Regions from separate parts of the Homo sapiens genome. Here region 2 is reported to be linked to region 1. The links are microRNA targets in miRTarBase. Many come from high-throughput screens and were not tested one by one. Region 1 holds a microRNA gene; the other region holds the end of a gene's coding sequence.

Region 1 (3,000 bases):
TGGCCAACATGGCGAAACCCCATCTGTACTAAAAATACAAAAATTAGCCCGGCAAGGTGGCGGGTGTCTGTAATTTCAACTACTGGGGAGGCTGGGGCAGAACAATTGCTTGAACCCAGGAGGCGGAGGTTTCAGTGAGCCCAGATCGAGTCAGTCACTGCACTCCAGCCTGGGCTACAGAGTGAGACTCCGTGTCAAAAAAAGAAAAAAGAAAAATGGATTCAAAGAATTATCACTGTTAAGTTCCACCAGCAAATTATTAAACGTGGTTCCAAAGGGATATTTAAAAAGGGAAATTAAGTGTTTCCATGAAGGTCCTATTCACAGCAGAAACGCAGACACTGTTCATGACCTCACCACACAAACTTCCCTTATGTGTTGGGAGGGACCAAGGGGCTCTCTGGCCCTGCACCTGCGTTAATTACGGCCGGGAGGTCCACACTAGGACCCCAAGGTCTGGGAACCAGCCTGGATCGGGGGCAGAGAAGCGGTGGATGTGGCTCCCAAAGTGTCTTAGGGGCTCCCTTCCCTGTGGCTGTTTCCTGACTGGATGCAGCAGGGTCAGGCCTTTCGCTGTGACGTTTTCAACTCTTTGTCAGAGTGGCAGGAGCGTCCCTGTGAGAGGCCTGACCCAGGTGTGGGTCATGCAGCCAGCCCGGGGTCCAAGGGGCACTCCTGGGATGAACAGGAGGATTTGCGACAGCCTAGAGGATAGAGGAAATGGTGGCTTTGAAAAGGCAAGTGCTAGGTTATCAGGGAACGCATATATCCATTTCTGGCAGCGAACGGACGGTTTCAGACACTCACGAGGGAGCTTCCCGCGTAGGATGCCAAGAAGTCGGAGAACAGTCAGACACCTGGCGATTAGCCCGTCCTACGCAGGGACTACACTGCGCATGTTCAAAGGGGGCGTGTCAGGGGTGGGGCGAGACGGAGGGGCGGTGCCGAGGGGAGAGGCAGCGCAGAGGGAAGGAGCGGGGCGAGGAGAAGGGGCGGGGCGAGTACTGCTCCAAGATATGGCAACCGTGACAGCTTTGCGAGTAGCTCCAGGTCCCCTGCTGCTCCGTGAGAAATCAAACTTCTGGCAATGACGAAGCATGAAGCCAGCATCTCAGGGAGAGGTAGTGACATAATTACACGATAAGACAAGCCGCCTGGTCTCGCTGTCACTTGGCAGGCAAGAGAGGTTCGGGAACAACCAGGCTCCCCTTTGGCATGGCAGAACTGCTCTGGACTCGGGAAGGTGTGGATTGGAGGGCGGGAGCTACGCCTGGCATACTGGGACTTGTCATCTTTGATTAGCTTCCAGTTTTTTAATTGCAGGGCGACCGGATTACAATCCCAGCCAGCATGAACATGGGGCGGCGCGCAGTCCTGAAGGGGGAAGCCGGGCTGTGCCGGCCTGGCTCTGCCGGCCTGGCTCTGCATGCTGGGAGCTGTAGTCTCTTCACCGCTCCCGCCCGTTGTTTCAAGCGCTTCGGGACTGCAATCCCAGCATGCCCCGGTCTCAGGGGCGGGGCGCAGTTCTTGCGGGAGGAGCGGGGCGGTGCGCTCCTGGCCACGCAGGCTGGAAACTGTAGCTCTTAACGGTTCCCCGCCCGTTGGTGGCAAGGCGGCTGGACTAGAATCCTAGCAGGCGATATGCGAGAAGGCGGGCAGCCCAAGAGGGTTGGGCAGGGCAGTGTGGATCTCGCCGCTTCCACAGCGATGCTGGCTACTGATTTCGGACACCTCCTTGCCATGGGATGTGAGTCCGGAGAGGGACAGGAGGGGCAGGTCCGGGTTGGGCAGTGAGGAGGGTGTGACGCCGCGAAGTGCACCTCGCCCTTGTCCAACTCGGACGGGTGTGGTCCTCACCTCACTTCCCGCTGCTAGGCTGGGTTCCCTCTCCCACCTGCACCCGGGGTCTTTCCTGGACATCACGCCTCCTCCAGCCCAGGGAGCCACCTGCTTTCCTAAGCTGCTGTGGGAACTGGCCTGCGGTCCAGGCACTGTCCACTGTGCCGCTGCCCTCTTTTCTCTCCAGCCAGAGCGCAGTGCAGCCGCTATGGGGAGAAATCCGCCGCCCGGCCCGCCAGTGCACAAGTTCAGAGCTTTGCGTGGGGCAACATGCTCTGTGGCTTCATGAAAATGTCACCCTCACCAGCGCCTTTTTCGCGGATGTGGATGTTGAGGTGGCAGAGAGGGTCATTATTGGTTTACCCAGGAGATGCTAACAGCAGAAGAGAAAATCTCACATCCCAGGCGTGTGTCTCTGGTGCGCCATTTTCCCCCAACCCATTTGGTGGAAAGTTCCCCAAATAGCTACCTAAAGATGAAGATAGTTTAGGCATTTTACACGTGACATCATTGGCCTCATCTCAACCGAGGCCTGACTGGGCAGTGTCTCAAAGACACAATGGCAACCTGATTCTCAGGAACAGGTGGTGCTCCAGCTTTGTGTGAGCGACTTTCAAGGTATAGAGCACTTGGGGAGTCTTTGAAACTCCTCAGGCTTCACAACTTTGCTTTGAATGGAATGTTCATCACCCCCGGCACTCACGGAGGTACCTTTACTCTCTCGGGCTGATCTGTTTAATTTTTCTGTCCAGACAATGGAAACTTCTGGGAGCACTTCTGGTTTCGTGTAGCTTCCTAATAATTGATGTCCCTTAATTCCAGGTGTCCTCAGGGAAAGTTCCTTTGATTCTGGAATGGCTCCAGCTTTTATGCTTTTGTGTTTAATCCGTAAAAACCAAGGTGTTAATCTACATAAAAATAAGACCTTGTTCATATCACACATTCCAACAGGCTTCATTTCTGATTCCTGAATGCGGATTACTATTTTAAAAAAGCCTAAAAACTCTGGTCATGGATATTAGACACTGTTATTGTACTTTGTGAAGAATTTACTCCTTCAGGATCAATTACACACGGGCTCATCAGCACCTTTGTCAATAAAGGAACAAGAACCATGTGGCATCTATGGATGTGGTGAGGTGAAGTATAGGGAGACCACAG
Region 2 (3,526 bases), not on the chromosome of region 1:
TGACACTCAGAATAACCAGTGAAAACAGAGCGTCTAGCATTAAGCAGGTTGCCAAAAGTTTGTGATTATTTCCCCCCTCTGCAACTTAATTGGTTTTTTGTGTTGGTGTTATGGGTAGAAAGCCTTGGGGGCTTTATGGTAAAATGTATTCCAATAGCTGAAAGTGGACTCTGTTGTGAGTATCCTAAAAAAGGGAAAGTGTCTGACAAAAGGATAAATTAGTCTAGAACTAACAAAGCAAGGTCAATGCAAAAGCCAGGGCATGTGTCTGTAGCTGAAAGAGGAGGAAAGAGCCAATGGTCCTGAGCTGATTACTGCCCAGTTCACTGCACTTGACTACACAAGCCTGGGAGCTGCAGGAGAGCCAGCTGCCTTTCTAATTAGGACACTTGGGACACAACAACTTTTTTGGTCATAAAAGTGGTTGTATAGATTTAATCTTTGAAACAGTCTTTAAAAACAAACAGAGATTTTGCATGGTCAGCTAGAAGCTGCTATTCTTCAAAAGTGAAGGGTGATCTATTGGGATCATCTCCAGGAAGTCCTCCTTATAAGCAGAGATGAGCCTGATCTCTAAACCCCTCAAGTTCTGAAGAAAAGTCCATTTCCTCACTATTTTGAGTTTTCATTAAAGTGATAGATAACACGGTGGTGGGGGATGGGAAAGTCCTCCCACTCTAAGGTTAAGATGGAGCCAAGACTGCAAGGAGATTTAAAAAATCTCCCTGAACTTAAAAAACAAACAAAAATCCTTGGCATTATGATGAGATAAAATTTAAATTGTCCACTACAGAACAGTAAACTGTTTTTTAGAGATTCTGGTCTTTTCCTCTTTTAATCTTCTTGGTTTAAAGTGTCTATGCATTTATATTTAGTGAAAATGAATGGGCACATTGGGATTAAAACTCCAGAGTCAGAATCTGGCCCAAGTAATATTGGCATTAATATCACTTAGCTATAACCAAATGAACTAAGTGCTCAGGAACAGCCAACTAAACACTTCTGTCAGTTGTCAATCTCTCAGTGATCCCAACAGAGCACAGTGTGAGGATGGTAGTACAGTCCTCTTCAAAGGGACAGGGAACAAACACGGTGTGGTTGTGATACCCATCAAATTATACCACTGAATTACAAAATGTTTTTAATGTCTCCCCTTATAATTATATTGTAATGTGTGTCATAATTGGTAACACATTTGAACTTGGTGTTTCTTTCATTAGTTAATATCTAGATCTATGCAAGTTGCTCTAATTAGATTGCTTTCTGAAAATAATAATAAGGCAGGTTTAGGACCAGGCAGAACGTGAGCATAACGATAGTGTCTTTCCTTACCATATTCGGTTTAATTTTAGGCATGATCTTACCTTCCTAAAGAGGGGCAATGAGCTCATCACTGAACTACAGCACATTTTTTAAACAGTTATTTGTCGCATTGCAAGCAATCTAGATGAGATTTCAGGAAAAGAATGAGCTACCCCACTCAAATGCATAACAAATATGCTTGACTGGCATTTGGAAAGAAGAAAGAAACTCTTATTAAAATTTAACATCAACTTGGCCAGACGTTGGGCTGAATTGGAAGAACAAAGTGCTGCTCAGTAAAAAGCCAGGGATGGGAATGATTTGATTTCTACTCATATGGCTGAAATAAAGAAAATGAGAATGGCCAGCTACTTCCTTCATCGCAGGTCTACATAATCTTGGATTCCAACTCTTGCCACTGCACAATGGCTTTTTCTTTTGAAATGCTTAATTTGTAGTTGTATAGATCTGACTTCAGTGGAAAGAGGGAATATCCAGTGCTACAATGTTCTCAAAGAGAGCAAATGGTTCTGGATTGGTGGTGGTGCACACAATGATACGGAAAACGATCGCACCTCAGCACTAGTCACCTGGGCACCTGGCCTGGCCAAGATCCTCCTCCACTTTAACCCAGCTGGAATGGGTAACATGGTTACCACACTTTAGGGTACACAGGATTCCATAACAACTTCTAAATATTCTTCTTCCTTTTCCTTTGTGTGTCCCAGGGTCTTAAGCTGATTCATTGCCTCTATATTCTGAGAGAACACCCAGCCTAGTGCATGGGTTGGGATTATGGGAGACACTAAATTTAGGCTGGAATGGCCTTACAGATGTGGCCACAGTGCTATTATTTGCCATAACAATGCCTACATCAAGAGACGCAATGCTATCCACAACATAGGCTTTCTTTGTGATCATGAAAGATGCACTGCCTTATATCCCACTCACCACAGAGGGACCATCTTGCTGTAGAATGACTGAATGGACTGGTGAGGACTGCATCAGAGGCATTTCTTTAAAAAAGGAATCACAAGGGAGTCCATCGTGATTTGCCTATTTTGTCATGAAGCATCAAAGTTACCCAGAACCTTAAACACATCAAGTACAAATGCAACATATACAAGCAAAGCGAATTCAATAGGATTCCTAGCAAATTATTAAACTCCACGGTGGTAGGGCAGGGAGTAGTTGCAGAGGGAAGGAGTGAGATGGTGATAGAGATGGAGATAGGGAGATAGATAGAAGATGAGATATGCAAACCAGTTTTTTACGTTTCCATTTTTCAGAGTCTGATCCCACCAGCAAAACAGGTCCTGCCCCAGTTGGCCAGAGGCCTCTGATTATGAGGACTATCTGAGCAGAGCTGCAGAAACTATAGCTCTAGTCCTCATAAAAATGAGAGGCAGTTTATTATTAAAATCCAAACATGAAAATACTTCAAACCATTTCGTTAGCAGCATAGTCCCAAATGCAACATTCCCTTTATCAATCAAGTCTAAACCATGTGGCTTCAATGCATCTGTCCTGCTAAATCTGCTAAAACTCTTAAAAGAGCAGTGCAAAAGAGAAAAGACATCTTTCCTTTTAAATGGCAGACAATCCTTATAAGACATTCTCTAGGGTTCTATTCTGAAGGCTATTCAATTTGATTTGGGGCACTTTTTAAACAGCCATTTGGCGCTTTCCGTTTGGAGTTCTTAGGCACAGTGTGACAGAGTCAGCTTGGTGAGCCCTTCCCCATGCATTCGGTACAGCAGCTGAAACTCAGCAGGCAGCTGGTGGGACTCCTGCCACTTGGTGGTAAATTTGGTTCCTTTTTTGTCATAGTAATGGTATGGAAGATCTTCCCTTGTGTTGGGGTCAAATCCAAACGGCCAAAATCCATACAAGTGGATCTCTTCACATATTGCTGATGCAAGGGTGTACATAAGAATACCTGTGCTCAGCCGTTTAGGTGACAAATGTTTGTTTTTCCAGTACCTGTGGAACAATAAGTACATTTGGATTCAGAGGTCAGCGTTGAAAGTTTCAATCAGCAAGGTCTATCTGACTGGGCTGGGTAGTGGATTTGTTACTGTAACTTAAATAGTGCTTGTTTTGAAATTATATTTTAGGCAACCAAAAACAACTTCTGGGCACAACTGGTTACATAATTTGTGAGATCCAGTAAGAAATAAAAATGTGGAGTCTTGGTTCAAAAAGTATTGAAAATTTCGAGTGC

What was found. The annotated mature microRNA hsa-miR-3147 reads GGUUGGGCAGUGAGGAGGGUGUGA and lies in region 1 at 1,782-1,805, shown strand. An mRNA with a match to its seed (bases 2 to 7 or 8) in the 3' UTR can be bound and repressed. Matches are read on the target gene's strand: a 7mer-m8 pairs with bases 2 to 8, a 7mer-A1 pairs with bases 2 to 7 and ends in A, and an 8mer does both.
Region 2: the mRNA of ST8SIA3 is a reported target of hsa-miR-3147. Seed matches in the 3' UTR shown: 7mer-m8 at 1,565-1,571.

What each region holds. Positions count from the first base shown.
Region 1 is chr7:57,403,249-57,406,248 of GRCh38, forward strand. It overlaps MIR3147 (microRNA 3147), which reads left to right and starts at 1,777; the gene lies at 1,777-1,842. MIR3147HG (MIR3147 host gene) reads left to right here and starts at 1,519. Exons shown (of 3, transcript NR_120505.1): 1 at 1,519-1,747. LOC105375299 (a long non-coding RNA gene) reads right to left here and starts at 871. Exons shown (of 2, transcript XR_927305.3): 1 at 808-871.
Region 2 is chr18:57,359,754-57,363,279 of GRCh38, reverse strand. It overlaps ST8SIA3 (ST8 alpha-N-acetyl-neuraminide alpha-2,8-sialyltransferase 3), which reads right to left. Exons shown (of 4, transcript NM_015879.3): 4 at 1-3,285. The coding sequence ends at 3,003. Among named protein-coding and RNA genes, the nearest start is that of ST8SIA3, 9.0 kb to the right of the region's middle.